Regions from separate parts of the Homo sapiens genome. Here region 2 is linked to region 1. The links come from fine-mapping of genetic effects on gene expression. A gene starts in region 1. The other region holds a variant in brackets. All regions are shown on one strand. Distances are between the middles of the regions.

What was found.
Region 2: its variant is fine-mapped to the expression of TLNRD1 in cerebellar hemisphere (GTEx, PIP above 0.99).

The regions. Positions count from the first base shown.
Region 1 is chr15:80,997,581-81,002,952 of GRCh38, reverse strand. TLNRD1 (talin rod domain containing 1) reads right to left here and starts at 2,030. Exons shown (of 1, transcript NM_022566.3): 1 at 1-2,030. The coding sequence starts at 681. LOC128071545 reads right to left here and starts at 811. Exons shown (of 1, transcript NM_001414893.1): 1 at 674-811. The coding sequence starts at 811. The coding sequence ends at 674. RefSeq lists enhancers at 1-239, 4,896-5,372 and silencers at 733-862, 1,213-1,672, 1,713-2,402.
Region 2 is chr15:81,169,830-81,175,201 of GRCh38, reverse strand. No RefSeq gene overlaps it. Among named protein-coding and RNA genes, the nearest start is that of IL16, 24 kb to the left of the region's middle. The variant G/C (reference allele first, on the strand shown) is at 2,313.

The sequences.
Region 1 (5,372 bases):
CGCCGACGCGCTGGTGCTCATGCACTTGACGCCCAGCTTGAACTGCTCCCGCGAAAAGCGGTCCCGTGACTTGTCACTGGCCAGGGCGCACGCGTCCGTCAGGAACTTGAGGTTGCGCGACAGGCCCTGCGACACCTCCAGCAGCAGCTGCGGCGTCATGTCGGCCAGCGGCGTGGCGCGCAGCACGGCGCAACCCTGCTCCACCTCGTGGCGGCATCGCGTCACGCGGTAGCGGTCCACCAGGCCCGGCTGCGCGGGCTGGGCGCCCGGCGTGGCCACAGCGGCCAGATAGGCCGCGTGGGCCGAGCACTCGGTCAGCGACACCACCAGGTCGCCCAGCTCCACCAGGCTGTCCCCCGCCTCCCCGAAGCGGCCCATGTTGAGCTGGCTCTGCACGTCGTGGGTGAGGATGGAGAGCCCCTTGGTGCGCGCGATGATGGTGTCCCGGCACTGCTCGAAGGACTCGGCGCCGGCACCAGAGGAGGCGGGGCCCTCGAAGAGCACGGGCCGCGCCTCGCTCGACAGCAGCAGCAGGTCAGCCACCAGCTGCATCTTGCCCTTGCAGTGGTCGCAGACGGATACCAGCCTCTTCCGCGGCTGCGAGCTGGCCCCGCCGATGGCGCTCGCAGGAGCCGGAGAAGCCGCCTCGCCAGTGGGCTTCCCGGCGCTGCCGCTAGCCATCGCGCCCGGGGGGCACTGGCATGCCGCTGGGGAGCCCGCTACCACCGCCGCTGCCGCGGCCACTGCCGCCGCCCCGGCGGCCGTCGCGACTCAGCTGGCCAAGGCCGCGGTGCCTTCCCCGCACCATCATGCCATCCACCGCCGCGGGCAGAGGGCACTGGGCTGCGGCGGCGGGAGCCCGGGCGGCGCGGGGTGGGCCCGAGGGCGAGAGAACGCGGAAGGCTCTTCGGGGCAAGGGGAGGGGCTGCAGCTTTCGGCCTCCTAGAGGGCTTGCAGGAACCATGAACCGGGGCAGAGCAAACTCACTGTCCGCGCTCCTCGTCGCCGGGCTGCCAGGAAAGTCCCTTCTGCTGGTTCGCCGCCGCCGCCGCCTTCTTGGGCATGGCCTGGCGCGGCCCTCGGAGCGGGGAGGGCGGGACGGGGAAGCTGGGAGTTGTCCTTCCTTCCTTCCTTTCTTTGAAATCAAAATCCTTTCCTCGGGGAGGAGCGCGGGAGGCAGCTCAGGCGGGCTGTGCTGTCAGCCGCCGCGCTCGAGGCCACCTCGGGCTCGGCGGCGCACGTGGGCTTCAGGCGCCGTGACCCCACCAGGCGGCACTTCCCCGCGACGGCGGCCGGGGCTGGCTCTCTGGGACGCGCGGCCGCCCCGGGCGCATCTCCTGCCTCCAGCTCTTGGGAAGCGGCGCCGGCGGCAGCGGGGCAGAGGGTGTGGCCGGCACTGTCGCGGCCGCGCCGAGTCAGAGTCGGGCGGGAGCCTGCACTGATTGCGCACAGCGGCCGCCCGGATCGCGCTCAAGCTCTCGCCCGCCCGCCACACGCCCGGGCGTGCCGAGCACCACGGCGGCCCCTTCCCGCCTCGCCGGTTCACAGAGCGCGGCCCGGCGCCGCGGCGGCACGCCCTCCCAGACCGCGCGCCCGGCGGCCCGGCGCTGGCTGTCTACGCAAGTCCATCCCTGTCGCCTCGTCTGGGGCCCGCAGCAGCTGAGCTCTCCCGAGGCCCCGGGCCCCGCGCATCGGACGCCCCTGCACGAGTCTCCCTGCCACCGGGCCAACTCAGAAGGTCCCCGCGGCGCTGCGGCAACCGGCCCGGGCCCCGGCTCCTGCCATTTTTGTCAACCGCCAACTTCCGAGCGAGCGGGCAGAAACTGAAAGGAAGGGCGGGGGCCGAAAGGCAGAGGGGAAAACACCCGCTTCCTCTCCGCGCGCGGCTTCACCTCGGAGCGCGGCCGTGGCTGCGCCGCCGCCCGCAGGGGCTGCCGGAGGCTTTTCCTGTTCCCGTCCGCGCCTCGCCCCCGGGCTCGCCGCCGCCGCCGCCTCGGCCGTAACCTCCCTGGAGCCTATAGAAATCTTTTGTGTGGCGTCACCGCCTTTCGTTTAAATCCCGCTTCCTCCTCTCGCCCTTCCTCCCGCCCCCTCCGCCGCTCCCGGATGCTTGCGCGATGCGCTGCTCCTCCCCCGGGAAGCTGGGTGGCTGCGGGGGACGCCGCCGCCCAACGCGGACGCTGCCGGCGTGGGGCCGGTGGTCCTGAACTCCCCCGTGGTCCTGGGCCGAGAGACTGGGGGAGCGGACAGGGGAAGGCCTGCTCCGGCCCGGGGGCTCTGCGCACACCCATGGGAGACCGGGGCGCAGCCGCCCGCGGGCCTTACGTAAGCTCTTAGCCGGACCAGGGGGCTCCACGCTTCCTCCCCGCCAAGAGAGCAAGTCTAAAAGGTGACCTGGCTTCTGGGCTGAAGGGAGGAGGACACTGGATTTCGGCCCCTGGTGATTTGCTGGGGCCGGTGGGTCGTCTCGGTCTGCGCGACTTCGCCCGGTTTTCCAACGCCCCCTGCCCTTTGTTGTGTTTGATCCACTTCCACGATGGGTTTCCGACCAGCAGTGCAGTGTAACGAAAAGAGGAAAAGAGCACTGGATGGGGAGTCCGAAGAGTGGTGCTAGATGCCTGCCCGTTCCTCCCTTGAAATACGCCTTATGCAGTGAGAGCGCGGGTTCTGAAGCAGATTTCCTAGGATCAGCCTTTCTCAAGCCATTTATGAGTTCCATGACATTGTTCAAGTTCTCTTTCCAAGTATCCGTCTTCTCTTCTAGAAATTAGAGATTGTGCACAGGCTGCTTGAGTACTTGGTTCCTAAACAGTAGCTGTTAGAATTATTATGAGCCCTGATCAGCGCACTTTGCCCTCTCATAACGTCTATTTATTCGTCTGTATAATGGAATAATAGTGGCTGCTGTTAAATGAATTAAATACGACGGCGTTTGGAGGGAAACATTACTACTCCAGTTTTACAGATAAGGAAACTGATGATCAGGTGCTTGAAGTGACTTCCGAAGATCAGGAAGACAGCATATGGCAGGGACAGGAACCCACGCCTACGCCCCAGCCTCTTTTTACCGAACCTTGTTCTTCAGGAAGTGGTTAAAACACCTGGGCTACTCCCAGCAAAACGCCAGTCACGCAGTCCTGAAACAGGTCCTCTAAGGTGCCCAGCCCAACACAGGCTGGGCGTGCTGAGCCAACAGAATGTTTGTTCCTCTGTCCCTTCCTAGAACCCCAAGTCACCTTTCTCCAGCCAGTTAAAAACGTTACTTTTAACTAGGATGACGTTTCAATTTATCGGCCATATCCAAGCATTTCTGAGAATGAACTGTGAGACATGCTATTAATAAATTAACCATGAACAGCAGGTTCAAACCTGGATGGATAGTCATCCTACTTATAACTGAAAGTATCCTTAAATATCTTTAGAATCCGGATGAGCCCACTTAGTTTGCAAACCGAGGTCAATAAAACTGACTTGAAATAGGAAGTAATTATGTAGGGTTAATTCCTTTTTTTCTTCTACAAGAGAAAAAAAAAACAGCTGGATAAGTCAAGGTTTTTCCATGGTGACCCAGGGATTGCACCTTAGTCCTTCTTAAGCTCCAAAAACTTATGAGAGGGGGCCGAAAGCGATGGCTCACACCTGTAATCCCAGCACTTTGGGAGGCCAAGGCAGGCGCATCACGAGGTCAGGAGATCAAGACCATCCTGGCTAACACAGTGAAACCCCGTCTCTACTAAAAATGCAAAAAATTAGCCGGGCATGGTGGCGGGCGCCTGTAGTCCCAGCTACTCGGGAGGCTGAGGCAGGAGAATGGCATGAACCCGGGAGGCGGAGCTTGCAGTGAGCGGAGATCGCGCCACTGCACTGCAGCCTGGGCGACAGAGGGAGACTCCGTCTCAAAAAAAAATAAATAAATAAATAAATAAAACTTATGAGAGGGAAGTCAGACTGTTCTGTGCCTAGTTTATTCTTGAGGCTGCTCTAAGATCAGATTTTTTTTCCAAAGCCACGTAGTGCCCCTGGGGGTCCCATTTTCCCTTTCTTCTACATATGCAGTCTGTTTTGTTGTTGATGGAAACCCACCCCGACAATGAGTTGTGTTACACACAGACTGTCCACTCTATTCAGTGAGGTTTGGTTTCATTTTTAAAACTGATAGCATTGTTTTCTCGGCCTTCCCTGCTTCATTTTTCAGATAGGGAAGCTCCTAAACTGATCCTCCCAGGCACTGCCTCCACCTTTCTTTAGGTTCACCTTTACTTTGTCCGATTGTTCAATCACTCCACAATCACTGGGCACCAGTCTTGTGCTAGGCACCAAAGTTACATAATTTGTAATATGAGGCCCCCACTCTTTAGAGTCCAGGGATAGGAGTAGATTCACAAGAAACAGCCACAATTTCACTATTGGCACAGTGAGAGCACAGAGTAAAAAACCTATAGCAGAGATAATCAGGCTTCACAGATACAATATTTGTAGGTAGGCAGGGCCATGTGGTTCTGTCTGACCAATGAAATGTAAGGGGAAGCTATGCAGGTTACTTCTAGGCTGAGACAATGAAAAGCCAATCTGTAATTCTCCACTCTCTTGCCCTCCTATAACTACCACGGAGACTGCATTCTAGTTGGTGGAGCCTCTGTAAGCTTAGGTGACCATGTGGAGCAGACCCTCTTGATCTGTAGTGGACATGCAATGTGAACACAAAGTAAATTATTGGTGTGTTAAGTCACAGAGATTTGAGGGTTGTCTGTTGCTGTTGCATATTTTTAGTCTAATTAGAGGATGGCTTGTTGGTGTCTGCCCTTAGAGTCACTCAAGCAATGGCTTTTTCTTTAGAAAACTCCACCTATTACCCCTTCTAACCCTCTCAAAATTAAAATAAATATAAATCAAAAGTATTTGCTGTGATCTGACCCCCAAATTCATATGTTAAAACTTAATCACCAGTGTCACAGTATTACAAGGTGAGCCTTTGGGAGATGGTTAAGTCATGAGGTGGAGCCCTCTTGAATGGGGTTAGTGGCCTTATAAAAGAGGTGTGAGAGAGTTGTTCACCTCTTTTGCCCTTTCATCATGGGAGGATGCAGCAACATAGAGGACGCATCATCTATGAGGAATGGGCCCCTGCTGGGGCCTTGATCTTCTACTTCCCAGCTCTAGAGCTGTGAGCAATAAATTTCTATTAGTTATAAATTACCCAGTCTAAGGTATTTTGTTATAGCAGCTCAAATGGACTAAGTATTTTTTTTTTTAATGGATGTTGAGTGAGAGAAGAAAGCGGAAAATGTGTGGACTGAGGATTGGCTGAGGGAAGGTAAATGGAGTGGATGAGAGGGAGCTGGTAAATGGCCTGGCCCCTAGAGAATGCATTC
Region 2 (5,372 bases), 170 kb before region 1:
TGAGTTAGGAACCAGAACTAACATGAAAGTCCTGGGTTAATCCCTGGGGCATCATATCTTTGCTCCCCCTTGAGGTGGAGATAAGCAAGTAATAAGTACATCATTTGGAAGATGGTAAGTAAGTTCTGCTCTTCCTACCTTAAGTCAGTTTTGTCTTGCAGAAATTATTGAGTTGTTCTAGCTAGGAAAACCTGGAGGGGGCAGAGGCTTGGCTGGAATGCGGAGTATTCCAGCTCATGCTGCCACAGATTGCTAAGCCAGGGGGGACAAAGGATTGTTGTCTGAATTCCACCTCTCCAAGGGAAACTGAATGTGTTTGGATGGATGTCAACCAGAAAGAGGCCAATGGTCCACCCAAGGCCAGATCTACTCACTGAGGCAGTTTAAAGTACAGAGAGTTAGCACAAAAGGCCAGAGCTCTGTTCTCAAGGAAGGCCCCAGAGTCAAGTTGCAAAGATCAGATCTCAGCCCTATGTCCAAAAGTGGTGACTGCAGAACTAAGAACACAGAGTGGGGGTAGACTGGATGACTTAAAGGCCAGGAGTGAGCTCGAGGGAAAGAAGAACTCCAACAATGAAAACACAGACAAGACCTCACAGAGGGGATGACATTAGGCTTAGCCTCAAAGGTATTTCCAGTCCCCCCAGGATGCCTTCTCAACTCCTTCCAGGTCATCTCACACTTTTCTCTTCCTTTACATCGACCACAGAGCCAAAATAAATCAGTAGTGAGGCTGTCAAGTTCTGGAGGCTCCCCCAGATCAGCCCCACTCTAAGCTTGGAGCTCACTTGGGTTACTGACTCTATGCCTACCCCATCTGCAGTAGACACAACCCCACTGTAGGCTTGGAGCTTATCTGGGCTGCTGGCTCCATGCCTGCAACATCTGCAGTGGACACAGCCCCACTGTTGGCTTAGAACTCACTTGGGTTGCTGTCTCCATGCCTGCACCATCTGCTATGGACACAGTGGACACAGGCCCACTGTAGGCTTGGAGCTCACTTGGGTTGCTGTCTCCATGTCTGCACCATACACAGTGGACCCAGCCCCACTGCAGGCTAGGAATTCCTACTCAGGTTGCTCTCTCTGTGCCTCCACCATTTCTGCTCCAACAGCTCCACTGTTTCTCTAGAGGCATTTTTTCATCTTTCCTCCTCCCTCTGCTGCTCCTTCTTCCTCTGCCCCTGAAACCTTAGCCTGTTCCTGTCCTTGCCCTTTACAAGAATCTCATTTGCAGCTGACACCCATCCTGCACTGTTAAGGAATCAATGGAAAGGCCCACCTAGAGCCCTGTGACTGAGCTCTCCTCCTTGGAGCCTCCTGTTGTCACCTTACTGTTTTCACCAGTGCTACTGCTTTCCATCAGCCATCCTCCTCCCACCCTGGTCCCTGAAAGGCCTGAGCCCAGATGCTTTGCTTCCAGGGTATTGGCCATTCACTCACACAAGTGAAACTTCCCACTCACCTAATAGCCAGAGAAGTTGTTATAGCCCCAAATCACATTGTTAGATGGTCATAGAACATGTTGCCTGTATCTTTCCTCTTTCCCTGAGATCATACTGGTTACAACTGTCACAAAATCAAAGCTCAGGAGGCCAAGGTGGCCAGATTATTTGAGTCCAGGAGTTCAAGACCAGCCTGGGCAACATAGTGAGACCCCCATCTCTGAAAAAAAAATTAATTGGTCATGTTGGCATGCACCAGTAATCCCAGCTACTCTGGAGGCTGAAGTGGGAGGATTACTTGAGCCCAGGAGGTCGAGGCTGTGGTGAGCTGTGATTGTGCCACTGCAATCCAGCCTGGGTGACAGAGCGAGCCCCATCTCCAAAAATAATAAGAAGAAAGAAAGAAAAATCAAAGCTCAGATGCCATCTATGTTGTCCTCATTTCTCTGATGCATTAGATTTCAATTCTGTAACTAAAAAGAACAAACTTCATTTCTTCCCAAGATGCATTCAGTAGTCAGCAAAGAGCAACTGAATGGCTGCTGGGCTTCTGTCCTCAAAACCTCTCTATTGGAGACTGACAGAGGGGACAGAGGCAAGTACATTACAGTGGGGTGATTTGGGGGATAAAGCTTAGCCCTGGGAGATGTGGGAGCACAGAAGAAGGCACAGACCCTGCTGAGTTAGGTCAGATAAATGCTGGATAGACGAATGAATTGACTCTGAACCTCGGGTGAGATGGCCAGCTGGAAAAGGGTGATGGGCATGTTTGAGTCACAGGCACCAGTATGCACCATGGTACAAGGACAGGAAATAGGAGGATGAGTTCAAGGAACCACAGTCTAATATATCAAGAATATTTCTGAGC[G/C]CCTTGTGTTTTCTCTGCTAGCACCATTACTATATTCCACATTACCCAACCCAGATAGCTACAATCTATCCCTGACTCCTTTTTTTTTTCCTTATCTCAACTTTCAGCTCAATTCCTGACAGTTATATTTTCTTTGTTTCTTTTTTTATTATTATTTGAGACAGAGTCTTGTGCTGTTGCTCAGGCTGGAGTGCAGGGGCTCGAGCTCGACTCACTGCAACCTTTGCCTCCTGGGTTCAAGCGATTCTGGTGCCTCAGCCTCAGTAGTAGCTGGGATTACAGGTGCACACCACCATGATTGGTTAATTTTTCTTGTATTTTTAGTAGAGATGTGGTTTTGCCATGTTGGCCAGGCTGGTCTTGAACTCCTGGCCTCAAGCAATCTGCCCACCTCAACTTCCCAAAGTGCTGGGATTAGACGTGAGCCACTGTTCCTGGCCCCTCACAGTTATATATTCTAAACATCTCTCAGACCCACTGACTTCTCTGCCACTTCCTGGCTTAGGCTTTCATACTATTCAGCCAGAATAACCCAAGAGTCTCCTAATTTCTCTACCTTTATCCATTCTTACTCTCTCAAATTCATCCTCTCTCATAACCATAGAAATCTGACCTTTTGGCCAGGCACAGTGGCTCACACCTGCATCCCAACACTTTAAGAGAGGAGACTGGGGTAGGAAGATTGCTTGAGACCAGGAATTCAAGACCAGCCTGGGCAACATAGGGAGACCCTCTCTCAAGAAAGAAGAAGAAGGAAGAGGAAGAGGAGGAGGGGAAGAAGTCTGACCTTTATATTTGCCATTGAACACTCGACTGAGAGACTATATAAACTATCTGAAAAAAATCCCAAACCTTCTGAATAAGGCATGTAAGCCTTTATATAACTAAGCCCTGTCTACTTGCTTCAAATGCCAGGCTCCAGCAAAGCCGAAATTGTGCTAATTGTCTGCTTTCACTGCTGTCTGTCACCTCCATGCTTTTGTGCATCTGTCCCCTCTCTTCCTTTACCTTTCTCACCCTTTGATTGCCAGCTCAGGGATCACCCTTCTAAAATTCTCCTTTGAATGCTCCCCACCACTGATATAATTCATGCCCCTTTCCCACGCTACTAAGATTCTCTGCATATTTCTAATGCTGGGCTTTCTCTGTAATTATTTGTTGACATGTCCATCTTCTCCACTGGGTTGTGAACACATTGAGGCCAAATACTAGCTCTTATTCATCTTTGTGTTCCCTGATCTAACTCAGTGTCTGGCATACAGTGTCAGGCATTGAGTGAAGACTCAAAATTGCCTAAACTAATTAAATAATGGCATTGGTGACTGATACTTCTAGTTACTAAAATAATGAATGCAGGGAAAAAAACTGGAATGATGAGAAAGATGATGAGCTCAGTTTGGACATATGGTTTGGAGCATCTGTGGGCTACAGAGAGTAGAGATGTCTGATGGGCATATGGATGCAGGAACTGGAGGTCAGGAGAGAGATCTGGGATGGGGATAGAAATATGAACATCACTGGTGTATAGAAAGTAGTTGAAGTCAAAGGTTCTGATTTAAAACAATATAGAAAGCACAGTAAGAAAAATGGACTAAGTTCTGATTCAAGCAGCAGAGACAGAAGAAAACAAAAATAACAACAATACCAAAAAAAATGGGCTATGCATGAAGCCTTATAAAATTTCAACATTGAAGAAACAAGCAATGGAAAAGACATCCAACAGAGATGCAACACCAAGACAGGGAAGAGACTGAAGAGAGATAAAATTAAGAAAGTTCCAACACGGAAGCCAAGGGGAAGGGAGGATATATTTTGCATGTTGTTCAGTCTTTGCTGGCTTTGGGACAAAATAAATAAACCCTAAGAACCTTGGGCAAATTCATTTGGCCTTCCCTCTCTCTTGCAGAAAAGACTAGCGTTCAGCGTTCCCTTGAATTAAATAGCTGTAATTTCTAGGGTGCTAAGGAAGAATGTTTTGGGGAAGAGTAGATGGACATAACTGAGAATCTGTTCAGCATTTCCATTGACTTCCCAAACCTCGTGCTAATTTGTACAGCCCATAGTCCATTTCCCATAATTTGAAATCGCTGTGTATTTGAATAGAAATATAATCCACATGTTCATGATTCATTTGCACTTTATGTAACCAAATGTTGGTCTGTAGCTGTTTGATGTCCAAGAGACCATCTGAAAAGTCTTTGCAGCCAGAAGTCATGAGTTGCCAAGAAAATTAAGAGAAAAACCTCAGCCAGCCCTATCTATAATCCAAGGCAGTCGGCAGGAAATGAATAGGTACAGTGTGAAAGACAGAGCATTCAAGCTGCCAATTGTTAGATCAGATCCATGTTCTATGTCTCAAGTTCCAGCCACTTGATGCTAAAGAAGCCATATCAACACACAGGCAATGCCTGGAGATGCACTGTCATTTATTAAACAGATTGGTTACTGTTGGACATTTAGGTCATTTCCAATTTTGTTATTACAAATTAAGCTAAAACAAAAATCTTGGTTGATAAATTTTTGCTCACATCTCTTTATTTATTTACTTTTTCAGACAGGGTCTCACTCTGTCACTCAGGTGGGAGTGCAGTTGTGCTGTCTCCATTCACTGCAACCTCTGCCTCCTGGGCTCAAGCAATCCTCCTGCTTCAGTCTCATGAGTAGCTGGGACTACAGGTGTGTTCCACCACACCCGGCTAATTGACATCTCTTATTATGCACTTCAGAAAAATTGCACTAAATTGTTTTCCTACAGGCAGTGAATGAACTTGTCTTTCTCAGGATACCTTTCCAAGCATGGAGCATCATCAATGAAATAATCCAATGGAATAACATAAAGTTATTACAAATCATGTTTCCAAAGACTATTTTACATAGTATGGGAAACTATTAATAACATAAATATAATTGCATTATTAAATATAGATAACAAAACAGGATATTTCCCTGACCTCTTAGTGGGACTCACAGTAGGAGGGACTTGTTTACTCAGCCCACCACTCTCAACTCCTCGTGGGAGGGAGCACGTGAGCAAACAAGGTGGGAACTAGGGTATATGAG